Regions from separate parts of the Homo sapiens genome. Here regions 1, 2 and 4 are each linked to region 3. Evidence: fine-mapped expression QTL. A gene starts in region 3. Each other region holds a variant in brackets. All regions are shown on one strand. Distances are from middle to middle. Region 1 has its middle 40 kb from the start of TBC1D9. Region 2 overlaps TBC1D9 (TBC1 domain family member 9). Region 3 holds the start of TBC1D9 (TBC1 domain family member 9). Region 4 overlaps TBC1D9 (TBC1 domain family member 9).

Evidence for each region. PIP is the estimated chance that this variant, and not a neighbour inherited with it, causes the effect.
Region 1: its variant is the best candidate, but not a certain one, in a credible set for the expression of TBC1D9 in whole blood (INTERVAL, PIP 0.57).
Region 2: its variant is the best candidate, but not a certain one, in a credible set for the expression of TBC1D9 in nasal epithelium (TOPMed, PIP 0.56).
Region 4: its variant is the best candidate, but not a certain one, in a credible set for the expression of TBC1D9 in whole blood (INTERVAL, PIP 0.80).

Annotation. Positions count from the first base shown.
Region 1 is chr4:140,793,637-140,798,788 of GRCh38, forward strand. No RefSeq gene overlaps it. Among named protein-coding and RNA genes, the nearest start is that of TBC1D9, 40 kb to the left of the region's middle. The variant A/G (reference allele first, on the strand shown) is at 2,401.
Region 2 is chr4:140,668,147-140,673,298 of GRCh38, forward strand. TBC1D9 (TBC1 domain family member 9) reads right to left here. Exons shown (of 21, transcript NM_015130.3): 7 at 2,574-2,780; 8 at 1,488-1,658; 9 at 771-921. Among named protein-coding and RNA genes, the nearest start is that of TBC1D9-AS1, 41 kb to the right of the region's middle. The variant A/G (reference allele first, on the strand shown) is at 2,906.
Region 3 is chr4:140,753,889-140,759,040 of GRCh38, forward strand. TBC1D9 (TBC1 domain family member 9) reads right to left here and starts at 2,497. Exons shown (of 21, transcript NM_015130.3): 1 at 2,028-2,497. The coding sequence starts at 2,157. RefSeq lists a silencer at 1,850-2,539 and enhancers at 2,195-2,837, 2,838-3,479, 2,970-3,019.
Region 4 is chr4:140,715,107-140,720,258 of GRCh38, forward strand. The region is part of intron 1 of TBC1D9 (TBC1 domain family member 9); the gene reads right to left. It overlaps TBC1D9-AS1 (TBC1D9 antisense RNA 1), which reads left to right. Exons shown (of 2, transcript XR_007058283.1): 2 at 690-990. Among named protein-coding and RNA genes, the nearest start is that of TBC1D9-AS1, 5.5 kb to the left of the region's middle. The variant T/C (reference allele first, on the strand shown) is at 2,502.

The DNA of each region.
Region 1 (5,152 bases), 40 kb after region 3:
AAGGTACCCCGGTGGGGGTAGGTAGCTCCACATAGGAAAAGGATCAAGAAGAAAAATTCAGCAAGGAAGCGGGGGCAGGGGAGAACTAAACAAACAAGTCAAATGTGAAGAGGGTTGCTGTGTATTGTGTTACGATTTCCTATCCCTTCTCCCAATGGCCATATCCTAATCACCCTCATTCAGCAAATCCCATTATAGTCCTTTCTATTTCAGAAAATATTTTTAATCAATCATTTTAAACAGTTAAAAACTAACAAATATGCCTACTGTGCATCAGGGGTTTTTTAGGTTATTTAAAAATACTTGAACCCTCATAATAACACTCTGAAGTAGGAACATTATTCTTACTTGATTATTGAGGAGACTGATGCAGAGAAGATAAACAGCTCAAAGTCACATGGGTAGAAAGTGACAAATCTGGGCTTCAAATTCATAGTCTGGCTTCTGTGTCTATGCTTTTAGCCACTGCGCTGTGTTGCTTCTCTTACATTTTTACATTAGATCTTTATTAAACATATAAAAATGAATATAATATCCTGGTAAAAAAATTAAGTCATTATAAATAAAATCATTTCTGGACTGTTCCCCATCCTCAATTCTGGCTCTTTTTCTGTTTAGAGAGAATCATATCTTTGCACAGCTTTTATCTCCTATATACTTTCATGCATGTGTATACACACATGTCTATGCATACACATATACACACACGTATATAAGTACAAATATATATATCCACATACATATATGTGCACACATATATGTATATGCATTACATATAATTGTAGAAAATACATATTGTTTGTGTGTTTAGTTTTTTACTTTGTATTACTCAACAATGTGTCTTGGAGATCTTCCTTGTCTACGTATAATACAGCTGCATTTTTAAAAATTGTTGCGTTATTTCATGGTGCAGATACATTATGTCTTATATAAGCAAACCCCTAATGAGAATGGAACATTTAGGTCTTTTCCCCCTATTTCATACTCTTTCAAACAGTGCAGCAGCAATGACCGTCTTTGTACATATTTCCTGTGTGTGCAGATGAGTATTCCAGCCTATGTTGTTTTTGGGTACATCATCTGCTATGACAGGCTCAGGAGGACCTGATATAATCAGGTAACTCTATAGCAACAGGATGCTTTATTTTTCATATTTTCTTAGAATGATAAAACTTAATTCCTTTGGGCCCTGATATTGATTTAGAGGTCTTAAAGTTTTCTCTTAAATTGTCTCACTTGTTTTTAGGCTAAAGTTTCCTGTTATTTCTTTCTAAACTGAATATGAGGCTCTTTAACAGAACAGACAGAGCAAAATTGGAACTGCATATTTCTGCCTTTTCGTGACATGAACTTTGTGTTGCCAGTGACAATTTTGATTTATAAGATAATGTACACAGGCAAAAAGTAGAAAATATATTTTAAATGTCCAATTTTTTTCAAGAAATAATAAAAAGTACAATGCAAGGAGGAAATTATTATCAACGTATTTCTAGGGAAGTAAAAGGTTAATGTATTGCAAAGCTTATCAAAGACTGTTAGTTGTTCCTCAGTGTCATGGGTCTAATCATGCACCCTGAAAATTCCTATGTTGAAGTCCTAACCCCCAATACCTAACAATGTGGCTTTATTTGGTGATAGGATGTTTACAGAGGTAATCAAGTTAAAGTGAAGAGGCCATTAGGGTAGAACCTAATCCAGTATAACTGGTGTCCTTGTAAGAAGGGGAAATTTTGGTCAGAGATACACACAGAGGGAAGACAACATGAAGAGACAAAGGGAGAAGATGGCAGTCCACAAACCAAGGGGAGAGGCCTGGAACAGATTTTTTTTCTCTCAGAGCTTTCAAGGAATCAAGCCTGCAGACACCTTGATCTTGGATTTCTAGTCTCCAGAGATAGTAAGTTTCTTTTTTCTTTTTTCTTTTTTTTGAGATGGAGTCTCACTCTGCCCCCCAGGCTGGAGTGCAGTGGCGTAATCTTGGCTCATTGAAACCTCTGCCTCCTGGGTTCAAGCGATTCTCCTGCCTCAGTATCCCGAGTAGCTGGGACTACAGGCGCGCCACCATGCCCGGCTAATTTTTATGGTTTTTTTTTTTTTTTTTTTTTTAGTAGAGACATGGTTTCACAAATATTGGACAGGCTGGTCTCAAACTCCTTGCCTCATGATCCACCTGCCTCGGCTTCCCAAAGTGCTGGGATTACAGGTGTGAGTCACTGCACCTGCCCTGAGATAGTAAGTCTTTTGTTTACGGCCACCCAGTTTATGGCATTTTGTATGGCAGCTCTAGCAAACAAATACATATACTCAGTATACATACATCTTATCATAATCAGCTCCAGCAGTGGCCTCCAATGTGCCATGCGCCCTAGGACCTACACCTGATCAGTCTCCTCCCCTTGC[A/G]TCTGTGCTAGGCCTGAGGCTTGTTTTAACTCATAAAATGTGGTTGAAGTGAGGCTGTGCCAGGCCCTAAGCATTAGGAAGGTCTGGCACTTAAAGTTTTGCACTTTGGGGAAGCCTAGGCTGCCATTTAAGAAGTCAGGCCACCCTTTAAGAGAGATCATGCAGAAAGGTCTTATGGAAAGGGAGAGACCTGAGTCTTTATGGAGAGACCTTTCTATATGGAAAGGCCCAACACTCCACGCATGCCAGCTGAGGTCAGTCTTCCAGCCGTCCCTACCAAGGCACTGCAGATGCGAGTGAGCATGTTGGACATGATAGCTGCAACCATCATCTGACTTTAATTGCCTGGGAAACTCTAAGCAAGGTCAGTAGAGGGACTGCCCATTCAATTCACATAATTATGACCGATAATAAAAAGTTGATATATTTTAAGCCACTAGGTGTTGGAAAAGTTTGTTACATAGAAATACATAATTGAAATATTCCCTTCTTCTACAGCAATAAGACTTCCAAGAGACCAGCAGTGGTATGTCTTACTTCCCAGACATGTTCTTAAATCTCTTTCCTGCTTCTTCCTCCAACCTGCTTTATGGAATGTGGTCACAGGATCCACCCTAGACAATATGCATGTACTATCCTAGAGACAGCTGAGTAACCAGGTTAAAGGAGCCTGGGTCCCTGCTATGCCAGTCCCAGACTATTACATGGAAGAGAAATGAACTCCTTGTTTACTGTTATTTTGGGCTTCAGTTACAGCAACTTTGTCCATATTCTAATTAACATATAAGGGATGAAATGTTTTACAATCTTTTTCTTAGTAGGTTTCTCAGCATGTTTTACAATCTTTTTATCAGGAGGCCATTTTTCTACACTGAAGTAAATTAGGACATTGTTTCAAATGAAAGAAAAGGAATTAAAGGATGAGAACATGAGATCATATATGGAGACATATGACAAGATTTCTTCAGGTTGAAGGCCAGGCACGATGACTCACGCTTGTAATCCCAGCACTTTGGGAAGCTGAGGCGGGCAGATCACCTGAGGTCAGGAGTTTGAGACTAGCCTGGCCAACTTGGCGAAACCCTGTCTCTACTAAAAATATAAAAATTAGCCGGGCGTGGTGGCGCATGCCTGTAATCCCAGCTACTTGGCAGGCTGAGGCAGGAGAATCACTTGAACCCGGGAGGCAGAGGTTGCAGTGAGCTGAGATTGCGCCATTGCACTCCAGCCTGGGCAACAGAGCAAGACTCTGTCAAAAAAAAAAAAAAAAAGTCTCTTCCTTCTGTTTCATTGAAGCTAAAGTTCAGTTCCTGCTGGACTCCTTCCCTATAGCGATAGTTATTACTGAATAAAATCTATCCTTCTGGCTTTAGCTAGTGTCCAGCTTAGTTCGTCTTTGACAGTCAGATTGTTGCTTGCATTCAGCTTTTCCTGTTCTCCGTAGCCCTTGACTTGGTCTCATTCCTTATCACATTTTCGTACTGAAAATTGGAAGAGCAATGGTCAGACTCTCCTGAGAAAGGATGAACCTGGTTCACTCTGAAGCACAATAGAGGGTGTGTGTTAGCATCTGGCTAGGTTGTAGTCATTAGCATATTATCTGATTTTTTTTTTCTGAATGGTTGACTCAATGTTGGGTAAGACTTAATAAAAATTCATTTTATCTGCTCTCCTTTTTCTCTCTTTCCCTCAATCTTTACAGTTTTCCCCCCTTAACCTTGCATCAGGGTGTTCCCAGGATATTGTGTCGGGGGTCTTAACTTACATTTGATGTATGAAATGAAATGCATTTTCCCAACATAGCTATGCTTAAGTAGAGCAAACTTCTGTGTTTTAACCCTCCCCTTTTTATGCCAGTTGAGTAGGGAGGAAGGAACATCCAGAGTAGAAGCCTCTGGGACATTGCTCCCTTGAGATTCAGGGTGAAGACTAATATCATTAGTCAAGGCCAGATGTGACTGGGTTTCTTGCCAAGAGATTGGTGAGAGCTTATCTGGGGATGGAATGACTTGACTGGACGTCTTGCCAACCCTGGAGTAACCCTTGTTGGCGGGGGGGAGATCCAGTGTTAGAACCAACGAGCTGGAGGTTGTGGGTGAGCACGGAGTCACACCATCTGCAATTCAAGTCAGTGACTGTGGATCTCCCAGACTCCCCTGCCCATCCGAAAGTGCCCATGAGCTGTGGTTATCAAGGACAAACTACCAGATGGGTGACTGTGCCAGCAGGACCAGCAAAATGGAAGCTGAGGAGCTGAGGAGCCTAACACCAACCACAAAACCCAAACTTCCCAGAGAGATGAAATTATTCACCCAGAAACCACACAGGAGATGCTGCAGGACACTTTGAAATGTACTTAGTGAATACCCGGGAAATTTCACCTATGCTGCAGGCACTGTGTTAAATGCTTTGTGTACGTGATCTCATCTGATTCTCTCAATATCCTAAGTGGGTAAGTTCCATTACTACCCCATTATAAAGAAAATGGAGCTGAGAAAAGGTACGTAATTTATCTAAGGGTGTACTCTTTTTTTTTTTTTTTTTTTTTTTTGAGTCAGGGTCTCGCTCTGTCACCCAGGCTGGAGTGCAGTGGCACGATCTCGGCTCACTACAACCTCCACCTTCTGGGTTGAAGTGTTTCTCCTGTCTCAGCCTCCCGAATAGCTGGGACTACAGGTGTGTGTCATCACACCTGGCTAATTTTTGTATCTTTAGTAGAGCTGGGGTTTCATTATGTTGGCCAGGTTGGTCT
Region 2 (5,152 bases), 86 kb before region 3:
GAGATCCCTGGGATACACTCAGTGCTTTCGGATGGGAGGAAGCAGTGTGAGCTTAGCCTGAAGGATCTCTGGTTTCTGTAGCAGGGCTCAAAGATCTGATGTGACAGAATGATGGACAGGCACAAGAGCCAGGTCTGTGGACCAGTAAAGATGGATGCCTCTTCACCACTGGTCCATGGAAGTGTCCCCTTCTGTCCTTCCTGGCATCTCTGGCTTGAAGTACAAGGTATGATCTGAGTAAGCTTTTATTTCCAGTGCAGACTCTGGCCTCATCTTTATGGTTCCAATGATGACCAAAGACTTCAGGAGGTGGCAAAAATCAAACACCTGGGCCTTTTTATTCCTCTTATTTCTTTCCTCCCAATTCCCCACCCGATGACTGCTCTGAGGAAGTGTCACACTTAAACATTCTCAATGAAGTTGACGTAGCTGGGCAAGGAAAAAAGAACTACTGAAGTCACAAAGTATTCTGTTCTTTTACTTCAGGTTCTCTTTTATTCCTAAATAGCCTGACTGAAGAAATGGAAGTATTTATAAAGACTCGAAGGATGGTGGATTCAACATTTGGTCCGCTTCCTATGGGTCCTATAGTTTTACAAAGGGAACAATAATTGAGGAACTTCAATACTCTGGTGAGGAAACATGATGTAGCTTTCAACTGGGGGATGCATATTTGAAAGAACCCCTGAGGCATGACTGAAGGCACAGGGAGGCCCTGGTGTGGAGTCCCACAGACTTTGACGCCAGCATTCCCAGCCCAGCGGCCGTACCTGACAGCAGCAGCCAGAGCTCCCCACGCATGCTCTCCGGGATGCCCTTCAACACCAGCTCCCGCGTTTTCTCTGTGCGGTACATGCAGATCCCTTGCCCATACTCAGCAAAGTGAATCTTCCAGGCTTGCTCTTTCAGAAACTCTTTGGCCTGAAAGGGATAATGAAACATTATGACATCCAAAGTACCCTGAGGATGGTAAGAGAAGAGTGATGGAAGGTCAGAACATGTTCCCTGCTGAACGGAGTGACAATTCCAGAAAGAAGTCATGAGAAAAAGGAACTCAGATTTTCTGGAGTTCTTCTCTAGTTTTATACATCTATCATGGCCTACAGCTCTGCCATGAAGCTTTTGGGCCCAGAGTCAGAATCCTACTTACCTGAGATTGTATTTATGGTTTTATGTCTGCACCCCCAAGTGAAAGTAAGTTAATGATGTTTAAATATGGGCTGAGAAATCGGGTATTTATTTGTTGGTTTAACTTAAGCAAGAGTTAAAAACAAAACAAGACCAAAAGAAGTCACCTGTACCCTCTATAACTCATCTCCTTCCATGAAGCCACTGTGAAAGTTATAACATATTTAGACAAAAATCTGCTTAACTTATAGGAAAATCTCCATTTACATAGGCATGTGTGAATTTACTTACAGTAAAAAATATTGTTAATGGCATTGTTCAAATCTACAAAGTTTCAGGGAAAAGTGAGAGGCACCCACCAATTTCGGGTTGAACTCCTCGGGAGACCGCCGCCGATACATGGTCATCAGGGTCTGTGTGGCTGTGGGGACGCTGTTGCCATTTAGGTTAAACTGGCGCTCTCCATCAGCATCAGAGCTCGTGCTTCTCTGGGGGCTGGAGGAGACGAGGCTGCTGGGTCGAGAGTACACCTGTCAATACAGAGAGGAACAAGACATTGGGAGGACACGGGCAATAGAACCTACTTCTTCAGTGTCTTCTGTATGGTTATCAAAAGCTACATCATTTTTTTCCCATGGTGTTTCTTGCTATGTGAAGAAACACGAGAAAAGCAGCAAGCCATCATTTTGGCAGGGATTAGACAGGTGGCTGGGTCCCAGGCCGCAGCACTTCAATGCTCACAATAGGTTTCTGAATCTTCATGTTTTATATGTATATTTGCAACAAAGTGCTTGGCCATTTGTTTCTCTGATTTGCATGTATGCAAAGCATGTCATGGTTGAATCAGCAGCTATGGCAGCCTCATCACCCCATTGAGTTTCTGGCGCCTCAAAAATGTCCACATAAGCTTGGAGCAGGTGAACAGAGACAGAGATGTTATGTGTGAGCTTACCACCTTCGAAACATGTTTTATCTGCCATAACTTCCTCTAACCATTCAGATAGTCACCTATCTTTTCAGGCCTCCAGTGTTCCTGAATGTTGGTCCAGGGAAGAATTCCACAGGGACCCAATATGTATTCTATCATAATAAAAATCATCATAATGATTTGTATTTCAGGTTTGAGACTTTATTTAGTGACCTCTGTACCATTCTCAACAATGTCACTATATGGACCTGAGTCACTTGCTATGTAACTAGAACAGATTACTTAAGAATTTCTTCAACTATAAAATAAAAGTGTTATTCCAGGTGATCTATAAGGTTCCTTCTAAATCTATGACCCCAAATACAAAGTCCTTGAGATTTAAATGAGATATTGCTGAGATATTGCTTTGGGCGTCAGACGCAAAGCTTGAAGATCAAACAAAATGGGCAAGGAACTGAACACACTTGGGCACAGGAACAGGATAAACCAAAAATACTTTCAGGTGTCTCCCACAGACCTCATCATCTGAACTGTTGTAACTTCCTGCAAACTCCTTGTCAGAATATATTTTGGAAGTAGTCTGTTGCAGGAAATCTGAGATCCTCTGCACTAGAAAGTCTCTATCTTTCAAGTTGGCAAATAGGAAGGTCATCCTGTTTCGGGTGCTGATGGATAAGGGACTGGGGAGCACACTGGAGCTGTCTGCCTTTTCCACAATTGTCACCTGAAAAGAAGTGGGAAACAAAGAGCATTATTTTCCAAGAATTACCCAATAGCAGCCTATATGCAGCACTAAAGGAGGAAGGCGGCACTTTCATTATTCTATAGGAACCACCTATATTTTATTGA[A/G]GCAAAACTGAGACTCTTTGACTCTGTTCCAGTAAAATAAAACAGCTCAAAACAATCAAACTGGAGCTTATACTAGAAACTGGAACCGTCTTGCTGGTTTTTCCAAATCAGTGGTTCAAAATGGGACTTTTTTCCTCTCAGGAGACATCTGGCAACATCTGGAGGCATTTTGGGTTGTCACAGGTAGAGGGATACTACTGGCATCTGGTAGCAGAGTCCCGGGATGCTGCTAAACATCCTACGACACACAGGACAGCCCCTGCCATCCCACTCCACCACAACGAAAGCCTGTCCCAAAATGTCAATAGCTCCAAGGTTGAGAAACCTTGCTATAAAGGAATTATTTGATTTTCATTAAAATTTCATGGAGCTATAAGAGAGAGGGCTCCTCGCTGCTTCATCAGCCATAAGAGACAGAAAACAACCCATGATACTGGTTCCTTTTACCAAGCTTAATGTTGGAATGGTTTTCAAAACACCACCAATCCTTCAAATGTTTCATTTAGACTCCAGGGCTTTTCATCCTTCACCTTCTACCACTGCAAAGTTTTAAAGGTTCTATTCTGAACAGACATGTAAAGAATGTAAACAGCTTAATTGCAACATTATCTGAACTACCAGACTGTGTGTGTGTGTGTGTGTGTGTGTGTGTGTGTGTGTGTGTGCCGAAGCCTACCACATTGGGGAAATTTAGCTCTAAACTGAAGACATATACGGGTGATTTATAATAGGATTTTCATCAACTAGAAACTAGGATAAACGCATTAAAACTTTTCTCTTTAGCACATTAGAAAACAAATCTCAAGGCAAGCACTAGAAAAATGGTTTATTTGCAGCAGCTCTGACAATATACTTAAAGCTAAGATCTTTTTTCCCTTCTTCATTTCTACTGCAAGCAGTCTAGACAGGTTAAACTTTAAGTTGTTCATTAGCATTTTCATGTGAAATATATTTCCTTCAAAGCACAACTTAGAAATGTTTTCCCTACTCAAGACTAAGTAACCTATTGAAGTTGTCTAAAAACTCTTGCATATCTAAAAAAATAGGTCTGCCTGGGGTCCATCAAGGGAAAAAGTGTAGCATCTGACTGCTGTTTTCAGAATATATGTGTTAGAGTATATATGATTCTTTTAATATCTATATTAAATATATGTGTTAATATATGACATATAATATACATTATATATTAAACATACATTATAGAATATTAAAAATATATATTTATATATATTAAAGGAATCTTCTGAGACACCTGAAGTTGTACATAAGGATTTTCTTTCTAATGCAATAAATGCTATATAACAGAGGGAAATACCTCCTTTTCCTGAAAAGAATTTTCCCATAACACTTAAGGCATGTATTAAAGAATACTTATTTTTTAAAATCCACAAAAGCCCCTTTTCTCACATAAAATTTTTACTGGCTCTTTTGGTCATGAGGTGTCTGGGATAAATGGAAAATGCCAAGGAGATGAAAGGTTACATTATGTGTCTAAAACGCAGTTAGCTATGTGGATCTTGATAAAGTCAAAGTGAAAAATTCCTTCGTCTAGCTGGAGCATGTATGCAGAAACAAGAAAGCTCCCACATAAAACATATAAATGCTCAGACGGCTTATAAAATGTTTCTCACTGATAAATGAGTTCTAGCAGAACTCTATCACATAAGCTCCCCGCCACCAGGAAAGGAGAACAATTACATTAGAGTCTGCTACAATATAATGAGACATATTTTCATGACCAATTTGAGTTATAAAAGAGACTGCAACTTAATCAAGTCTTGGTGTTTAATATGAAACACTGGAAAGTAATTTATGAATGAAAAAAAAGGCTAGGCACGTGGCTCACGCCTGTAATCCCAGCACTTTGGGAGGCCTAAGTGGTCAGATCACTTGAGCTCAGGAGTTCAAGACCAGCCTGGCCAACATGATGAAACCCCATCTCTACTAAAAATACAAAAATTAGCTGTGGGTGGTGGCGCATGCCTGTAATTCTAGCTACTCAGGTGGCTGAGGCAGGACAATCACTTGATCCCAGGAGGTGGAAGAGGAGGCTGCAGTGAACCAAGACTGTGCCACTGCACTCCAGCTTGGATGACTGTGTGAGAGACCCCATATCAAAAAAAAAAAAAAAATTCCTTCTCTTGCTGGCTTAATAATTTCTTCAAAATCTATAGCAACATGATCCTGGATAAATGCTTAACATCTGTTGACTGGGTCTACCTTAAGTCAATATGTAGAATGTGTGTT
Region 3 (5,152 bases):
TCCTGCTACATTTGACATGGCACCAAGGTATTAGACCAAACATTTTACCTCTCTTGCTTGAAAATAGCCTTTGTTGTCATAAATACTTTTACTCATGACAATGATTTCAATTATTCCATTAATAAGTGCAATCACTGTGATTTCTCAATTTACAAGATGTAATTTTACCTAAGTGAAAGAAGTCATTGATGACAAGATGAGATTTCAAGTGGACCGTAGTCAGTTATAGCTCTAAGAACCAGTAGGAACACAATACAAATGTTAAGCAGAAAAAGAAGGCTCTGAATCCCTGAATTTTTCACATCCTATTACAAATGACACAGGTAAATGAATACTTAATGCTTACAAGGTGTAGGAGGGTTAATTGCAGAAGGAAATGTTCTCTTTTTACTACAATAAATTATCTACTCTGTGTTGTTGTCCTAGGCTTAAAGGACTACATGGGCCGGGTGAGGTGGCTCACGCCTTTAATCCCAGCACTTCGGGAGGCCAAAGTGGGCGGATTATTTGAGATCAGGAGTTCAAGACCAGCCTGGCCAACATGGTGAAACCCCATCTATTAAAAATACAAAAAAAATTAGCCGGGCGGGTTGGTGCATGCCTGTAGTCCCAGCTACTCAGGAGGCTGAGGCAGGAGAATCACTTGAACCCAGGAGAAGGAGGTTGCAGTGAGCCGAGATCACGCCACTGCACTCCAGCCTGGGCGACAAAGCAGGACTCTGTCTCAAAAAAAAAAAAAAAAAAAAAAAAAAAAAGGACAATGTGGGCTGATTCCAATATTAGATATGTAAATTACATATTAACATTTAGAGTTAGATAACTTCTACAAAATGACCTGGAAAATCCTGGTATCAGATCACTAGTAAGTATTTCCAGAATGGGGTCTGGAGCTCTGCAGATTTATCTTTTCTGGTAGAATCAAGATCCTTCAAACATACCAGTATACATTGTACCACATGACACCTGAATTTTAATCTTAAGAAAATTAGTTTATAAATATAATCATAAGTAAATACATATATCAAGAATCTTTATTTCATAGCACAGCATTTGAAAGCAACAATTTACCTATTGTGCAAACTCCAGGTGATATATGAGGTTGATATAAGCTCAACTCTGAGGAGGGTCAAAGTTCATCTCTTTTTTGCAGTCTCCTTTCTAGTGAAACCTCTACTATTTCTTCTGCTAACTTTTTCACTGTAAAAAGTATTCCAGTTCTGTTCATTCTAAATAACACAGAGATGGAGAAGGTCCAATTTCTCTAGTATGGTATGAGTTCGAGATTATTTCTAATATGGCACTACTTTGGATATGGGTCTGACTGATCTTATTATCCTGAATGATATGACATGGCTTCAGCAACAATTACAATAATACCTTGAAGGGAGGGGGTTTAGGGAAGAAGTGATTGAGCAAAAATAGTTAAAATGCAGTTATACAGCCAATTATTTTTACAACTAGAACCAGACAATTTGCTTTGCTTTATGTCTAATTAGGTGAAACAAAAAAATTCCTGTTTCCGTATTCATTCTCTTCGGTCATAACTCATATAGGAAATGACCACATCAGTTCCTTACTTATCGCTTCCCTGGAAACAAAAGAGCATTTTATACCTGATCCTGCTGTTGCCAGTAAAGAAAGTGGAGCAAAAATTAACCTTCTTCCATCCCTCTTTTCCATTTGGAAAACAATATTTTTAAGGGGGGGAGGGGAAGGGAATGATGCATTCAATATATAGGGGATAATACATTCCCTCCGCCCCAGACTCACTCTTTCCCATTCTCCTCAACATATCCACTTAAAGAGCGCTCAGTACGCTGAGGGCCCCAAGCCTGACAGAGTCAAAAAAAGAAGCATCTCTGCCCAACCTGAACATCACGACTCTCGATGCCTCGCATACAACGAGGCAGGGCGGGTCGCCCAGCCCCAGGGGACCGGGCGGCGTCTCCCGAGCCTGCAGCCCAGGCCGCGGGCGGCGCCGCAGCGCTCCCGGCTCCCCTCCTGCAGGGATCGGCCACGGTCCTTACCCGCCAGTCCGCCGCCGCCGCCTCCATCGCCGGCGTGGCCCTTCCTCCGCTGCAGGATGAAGTATGGGTTGGCCCTCTCGGTGATCCACAGCGCGTTGGCCAGCAACACCTCCTCCGGGTTCACCCACATGGTCCTGGCTGCCGCGGGCGGGCGCACAATGGGCCCGTGGGTCCAGTCCTGCACCCACCACCGCGACAGGCGCGCACTCCTGGGCACACGCGCGCCCGCCCGCCCGTCCGCTAGGTGCGGCGGCGGCGGCGGCAGGCGACTTCAGGGGGTGGCCCGCGGCGTCCGGGCCACAACAAAGCCCCAGCAGGCGGCCCGGGAGGACGGTGAGGACGCGGGCGCGGCAAGCAGCATCCTCCCCGCGGCGTCGCCGCCCCGCGAGAGCCCGCGGCCGCAGACGCCCGGCCTGGCACTCTGCAGCCCGGCTCCCGGCCCACGGCGGCGGGAGGAGCGGGAGGAGGAGGAAGAGGAGGAGGAAGGGAGCGGGAGGAGGAGGAAGTGGTATAGCTCAGTCCCGGGATCCGGCTCAGCGCCAGGCAGGGCTAAGGGCCACCCGAGCGGATTCGGCCCCGCGGTCAGGGCCAAGCTGGGCTCCGGCGCTGCTGCTCCCGCGGCGCCGACTGGAGCTCCAGAGCCCCTCCCGTCTCTACCTGCTCGAGCTCCCGAAGTCGCCGCGCCTTAACGCGCCGTGTCGGGGCCGCAGGCGCCACTAGGGAAGCCCAGCTCCCCGCTGGAAGGACGCTCCGGACACTGCGAATGAATGACGACAACGCGGCTCACTTGGAGCGGGTCCGGGTTTGTGCGGACTCGGTACCACCGCGGGCTCCGCGCGCCGAGCTGAGCAGCTGTGGCTGGCTTCGGGGGAACCTTCGGGGGAAGCTCCTGGGGACCGTGTGCCAAGCACTGGGCCCGACGCCCATCCCAGCAGGGAGGACGCCGCCAGCCTGCGTGGGTGCGTGTGTGCTGTTTGTGTTTAAGGTTGACGCTCTATGGGATAGCGCCACCCCTTTTCCCAGGAAAAGTGTTTCAAGGTTCCAGACCTGGAGCTCGGTTAGAGACCCGGGGTCGGAAGCCAACGCAGCCAATGGTCGTCGATGTTTTTGTTTCCTGCATCCCCAGGGCAAGTCATGCGCTAAACTTGTCACCGCTTGTGACCCCTCCCCCCTCTCCATTCCATTGTAATTAAAGTGGCCTAGCTAAGTGCATTACATCACTTCTTTCCTTGACCTGTAGGGCGTGAGCAATAGAGAAGTTGGAAGCGGCCCAAAAGCTTAGACCAACTAATTCACACCACAGCTGTTCCTATATCGCATTTGGGGCTTCGAAAACTGGGCATGGCAGAATTTTAAAATTTATCCACTCTTGGTAGATGGATTTTTTTTTTAATCAGTGAAACCAGAAACACACAAACCAGGGCAGCTTTATCCCTAGACAGTTTCAGTTTCCCCAAATACTTCGAGCTTCCAGTGGTGATCACAGCCCATCTGCCTACATATCTGATGACCATTTTTTTTTCCTCCCGCCCAGGAGATCTGGAGGATAGTTCAGCCAAAAAAAAAAAAAAAAAAAAAAAAAAAAAAGTTCCTCTTCCCAAATGATGGGAATTTAGCAGACTCTGCTTTGTTGTGGATGCTGGGCAATCCTAGGGACTTTTCCCTTTCCAAATGAGCAGAGATTCAAATGAAACCTTCTTGTGTGGGCTTCAAAATTGTGACTTTTGTAGCTCCGACTTGAATTGTTGAATTCCTTCAATTAGTCGAATGAGCAAATCACCAGCCATTCTAATGAGACTGCCATTTCATCTGTTCGCTTCCTACCGCTTGGGCTCTCAAGGAATGGAAGTTTCCCTTGATGTTACCACACAGACTGATCTGCTTCTTCCAGGCATCAGTGGAAACCTCATGTATTTAACACAGACTCAAAAAACTCATTTGGCACTTTTGGTCACAGTGCAGTGCCTTCAGTCACAAAATCTGCAAATAAAAAGCAAACAATAAGATTATAAGTCATACATATGCAAAAATTATATTAATATATCATGTAACTTTTATATTTTTGAAGTGTTTCCATAGGTATTCTTTTACTTGATATAATTGGTATTTTTAAAAACTCTAAGTGCCTTAATACCATGTTGGGGTTTGGAAAATGATACCACAAAGCATGGTGCTTTGGCATGCTGAGTACTTTGAACTAAAGGAGATTGAAAGGCCTCAGAAGCAGTTTCTCTCTGACCTCCTTCTGCCCTCCTGTCTCCCACCTCTCTTTCTCCCCCAAAGTGAGTCATGGAAACTAAAGGCAGGTCATAGAAACTAAAACCCCTCTTCCCAAAGGAAGCTACAAAACCTAGAAATATTACCATTCCTCACTCTTCTGTGTAAGAGCAGACATAAAGAATAGAGAAATAAAGAAATTATCTACCCTACCTTGTTGGATAGTAGGTCCCCTTTCCAAAGGAGTCCTGCTCTAAACCCAGGAGGAGGGAAAGCTATACGGAGAGGCCAAGAAGAATCTGAACAGACAGACTGGGTCTGTTCTCAGTCTATTACCATTGGATCTTACCCTTTTGTCCAACCACATCTACATGGCTGCCCACTCTTCATTGAACCTAAGCACAAAAATGGACAGAGCGAGACTCTCTCAAAAAAATAAACAGGCTGGGCATGGTGGCTCATGCCTGCAACCCCAGCATTTTGGTAGGCAGAGCCAGGAGGACCCCATCTGTATTAAACCAGAGAGACCCCATCTCTATTAAAAAAAAATAGACAGGTTTCCCTGGGTTTTTCCGTCTTCATTTCTGAAGGTTCCCATGTCACCTAAAACTTTGATTAAACAAATGTGTTGTGCTTTTCTCTTGTTAGCCTGTCTTTTGTTATAGGTGTGTTGGCTATGACCCTTATGGGAAGGAAAGATATCACACCTTTTCCCCTACAACAATCTTTTGTTTTTGTTTTGTTTGAGACAAAGTCTCGCTCTGTCACCTAGGCTGGAGTGCAGTGGCACGATCTCAGCTCACTGTAACCTTCACCTCCCAGTTCAAGTGATTCTCCCACCTCAGCCTCCTGAGTAGCTGGGACTACAGGTGTGAGCCACGACGCCCAGCTAATTGTTGTATTTTTAG
Region 4 (5,152 bases), 39 kb before region 3:
GAGTGAGACCCTGTCTCAAAACAAACAAACGAACAAACAAACAAAGCAAGTCTGTTTTGTCAGTCTTAAGATCTCTGTTTTAATATTAATACTGGTCAGTTGTGCCTGAATTCCAAAGGAAGGAGAGTATAATGAGGCATGTCTGACCCCCCTTTCTCATCACGGCCTGAACTAGTTTTTCAGGTTTACTTTGGAATCCCCTTGGCTGACAGAAGGGGTCCAATCAATCAGTTGGGGGAGCTTAGAATTTTCAGTTTATACCCTCCAGTTATCTTGCTTCTGGTCTTTCAGACTGGCTGCAGTTTGCATACATCCTGGTAACAAAGCCCAGCAAGTTGAATTCATAGTACCTTGAATGACTCCTGTTCCTTATAACCCAAAGTGACCAACAAAAACCCTAACTAACCCCTTTGGCTCCATCTGGATAGGCTCTTTGAGTAAATGTTCCCTTCCACACTATAGCAAGTTATATAAGAAGGTGCAAAGGCATTAACAGCAATAATGTTTTCCAGTCTTGCATCCAAATATTCTAACACAGATAAAAATAGTGGCTACAGACTGTAATTAAAACAATCATGCTATTTGCAAGGGAGAGATACAGTAGCAGCCTGGCTTGATTCCTGGGAGTTTCGTGGAACCTCATCACTTTGAGGGCAAGCAACTCCACCTGCATTCCATTTCTATCTTAGCCTTTATCCACCTGGATAAGACTGAGGGACCTCACAGACAAATTTCATTTTGTGATGGATAACGTGGGAGCAATCTTCAGCTAAAGTCTAGATAAAGCCTTAAAGAGAAAATTGAGCTCGGAAGACCTGAAAATAAAGAAAACACCCTGGCACCAACAAGGGAGAGAAACAAAACAAAGAAGCTCACCAAAGATGGTTTGACTGTGCAAAACCATGGGTACGGTAACCAGTAACACCCTTATTTTATCAAGATGTCTATTGTAACAGGATGTGTTTTCAATAAATGTAAATGACCTGTAAATGTAGATAAGTCCCTTACAGAATATATTAGGCCCAACTGAAATTTTCTAAGTAGTTTAGTCATGGCCTGAAGATAGCTTGAAACCTGTTTTGAAAAACATTGATAATAGGTTGGACACAGTGGGTCATGCCCATAATCCCAACATTTTGGGAAGCTAAGGAAGGAGGATTGCTTGAGCCCAGGAGTTGGAGACCAGCAAGGGCAACACAGTGAGACTCCTATGTCTACAAAAAGTTTTTTAAAAATCAGCTGGGTGTAGTGGAGCTTGCCTAGAGTCCCAGCTACTTGGGAGGCTGAGGTGAGAGAATCCCTCGAACCTGGAGATGGAAGTTGCAGAGAGCCATGATCGTGCCCCTGTACTCCAGCCTGGGTGACAAAGCAAGACCCTGTCTCAAAAAAGAAAAAAAAATATCAATAATGGATGAGAAGAAATCATCATTGGCAATAACAAAAGTAGTGTACTAGAGTTGGGGGCCCTTCTTTGCAAAGTAATTACAAAGTCATTTCCAGGAAACCATTCTCTTTTCATGCTATAAACTTGTCACAACAGAGGGGTAGGATACCAACAGTATCACTGACTCCTTACATCCTCAGTTAGAAACTGATGAGCAAAAACACAAGGTGGGAGAAATTATTTTTATATTATTGATTAGTGAATGGGGAAATTTAAAGTAATGAAGAACTTACGTTTTTTTCACCCTTAATTATATTGTCTACACCTAGTTCCTTAAAGCAAAAATCACACACACACCCACACCCTCTACAACCCACTATGCTGATTTAAAACATGCTCATTTAAACTGAGTTTAGAGTAATGGGGGCTGTAAAAAAAAAAAAAACACAAACAACAACAACAACAAAAAAAGCAACTCCAGGTTTGGTCTCAACCTATCTCTGCATTTAATAAAACAATAATACAATGAAAGACTTGGGTTATATCAAAATAAATATTTTGAAACTTTTTAAAAGACAGTCACCTGCAAGAATTTATTTTATGCCAGTGTTTCTCAAAGAATATCCTCTTTGAATAAACAAAGGTTTCACTTTCTTCCTCACGTTCTGTTACATCACCCTAAATAAAAGTCATAATCCTTTAGAGAATCAACATATGTTACCTGAACCAGGAGATGCAGACAGGAGCTTTTGCCCAACTTTCCTGTCTTGTTTTGGAGCCGGAGTTGGGAGAGGGGTCAGGAAAGAGAGAGGGAGAGGGGAAAAGCCCAAGTTGTTGTTTTTAAAATTTTCCAGTTATAAAAACAACAACATTTAAGCTGCTTCTTCTAACCGTAGAGGCCTTCCTGTTCAATAACTATGACATAAATGATTCAATAATGGCAATGATTCTTTGTTAATGGCTAATTCACCATGCATAATCCTTTTAGACATGACTCAGCTTTCCTGTTGGGACAATATTTCATTTATGACTATCAAATTAATTTATCTGAAGCATATACTGGGTACAATAAACCTTCACTTTCAGCTGAAAATGGGCAAGGGCAGCACTAGGCATC[T/C]CATCTCAGAACTTGCTGGCTTCAAAACTTTTCCTTTGCTGGTGGAAGGCCGGGGCCTCTATGAAATCTAGAACACAGATCAGGGAAACAGATTCTTTCTACAGCTCAGGTGCAGCGTGAAGATTATGTGATTGGGACAAGTATGTGTTTCATGTTCTCAGGGTTCCCACTGGGTAGAACACAGTGCAGTCATGAAAGACAGACTGGAAAGCCATGGTATCCCCAGGAGCCCCCCAACTTATTTCTTTAAGTCTACAGGTCACAACTTCCCAGTGGTACCCCAGGAAATGATGACAAGCTAGCAATATACTTGTTCTCTTGGCTCTTAGGATACCTTTTGTGCCCTGCAAACACTATCATTTTCTAAGTATGCTATGATATGAAAATAGGTAGAAAGCTCTGTATTAGAACAAATAAAGCATAAAAGCATTTTAGATAATAGTGCTTTACTCTACAATATTTCTATACATTTAATTTCAATGCATACTGATGGGATTCAATTGAGTAATTAGTATATACTAATTCAATTGAGTAAATAGTATATAGTTTCCCCATAGTTTGCTTTTAAAAAGTTAAATGAAATATGCTTTATTTTATTTAAATGTGATATACCTAGTTTTTTTTCTGTTCCTTTTTTCAGAAAAAAAAAAAAAAAAAGTACATTCAGCTATGCACATTGGGAGGTGACTCACAGGACATTTGCCTGATCTTTATGCTAGTTCTTTGAACATTTTTATTAAGACAGAACAATCCCCTCTTTGCAAAAGTGTGAGGATCTCTGGTCTTCATTACTCTCTCCTCTGAATGAACCCTGAGGAAAACAGAGTCAGAGCTACCCTATATAATCCTCCATGTAATAATTACCCCACATAAACCCAGGGCCTCATACCTCCTTAGCTCTTCCCAGACAGTCCAATGAATAAGCAACAACAATGACTGAACATTTTCACAACGAACAAGCCACATGATTAGGAAATTACCAACATGGCTATTTTCAAATAATTTCCAGAAGATCACCAGGGAAACCCCTAGAAAAACTAAGCTCATTTAACTTAAATCCGAAAGAGCACCCAGCAGTCTAAGGAAAAACATTTAGATGTTTGTTCTGGCCTATTTCTATGACAGCAATAAGAATGTCCCTAATATTCCTACCTAGTGTTGTGTAAAGTAATCAGAGAAAGTGGATTCAGTCTTGGCCTGGTGGCTCACACCCGTAATCCCAGCACTTTGGGAGGCCAAGGTGGATGGATCACTTAAGGTCAAGAGTTCAAGACCAGCCTGGCCAACATGGCAAGGCTGTTTTTATTTTTGTAAAAACACAAAAAAAATTTGTATTTTTAGTCTCTACTAAAAATACAAACATTAGCTGGCTGTGGTGGGTGCCTGTAATTCCAGCTGCTCGGAGGCTGAGGCAGGAGAATCACTTGAACCCAGGAGACAGAGGTGACAGTGAGCTGAGATCATGCCACAGCACTCCAGCCTGGGCGACAGAGCAGGACTCCATCTCAAAATAAATAAATAAATAAATAAATAAATAAATAAATAAATAAATAAAAGAAAGTGGATTCAAGTCTTCATTTCCCCACTCACAAGCTGTGTGGCTTCAGACAAGTCACTTAGCTTCTCTGAGTCATAGTTTCCTGCCACTACATCAGGGATATTTCATCTTCCCTGCTAGTCTCCCAGGGCTGCTGAGAAACAGATGACATACTGTGTATGGGAGTGCTTCAAAAACTGTAGAGTCTCTCACTCATGTAATCTAACTAGGATTTTTCTTTAAATAATGCTTAATTTTGGAGCAGGGAAGGAGCGTCAAGACATAAACTTGCATCTTCTTTTTCTACAGAGAAGGAAGCTGGGCACTGGAAGGAAGTGCTTGCTAAAGTTATGTTCTGAATCCCAGGAAGTAGTCACCATGATTATTAGTGTCTAGAAGAGGTAAAGGAAAAATATGGCCTTAGTCCTGGAGGCATGATGTGATTTCATCCTTAGCATCATGAAATAGACACTGAGCACCTGTGGAGAGGAAGCTTTGCTGGGCACTAGAAATATAATCTATCACTGATGTCTTTGAGAATAGGATCTGGCTGCGAAGAAAGAAGCAGCACATACAAATAGCAATCATTAGAATGGTCATTTGCTCAGTCAGTTCAAGGGTACATAGCTCAAGGGTAATACAGAAGATGTTACACGGTACTTACCCAAGGCTGGCATACTCATGCAGGAGACTGTTTTGAACTGCCTCCTGGAGTTGGGTTTGGTGGAAGGTAGCTTTTCAAAACCACAGGCTTTGCATTAAGAACCTGGGTGGAATCCCTGTTCCACTGCTTCCTAGGGTCATGACCTTGGGGCAAGCTATATAACTGATAAAAACCACAATTTCTTCACCCACTTAATGAAGATAATAGTATCTTCCTGAGAGGTTGTAATGAGGATTAAAGGAAATATTGCACATGAACCAATTTTGCACAGCACCTGGCACTTGGTAGGTGTTCAATAAATAGTACCGATTGCGGTGGCTGAAGGCAGCCCCCAAGGTGGGAAGGCACATGGGATGTGTGGGGAGCAGTAAGTCCATCAGCTCAATAGCAAGGGAGTGCTTGAAAGGTTTGGGATAGACATCAGATTGTGGTGGGCAGCCTCAAGATAAA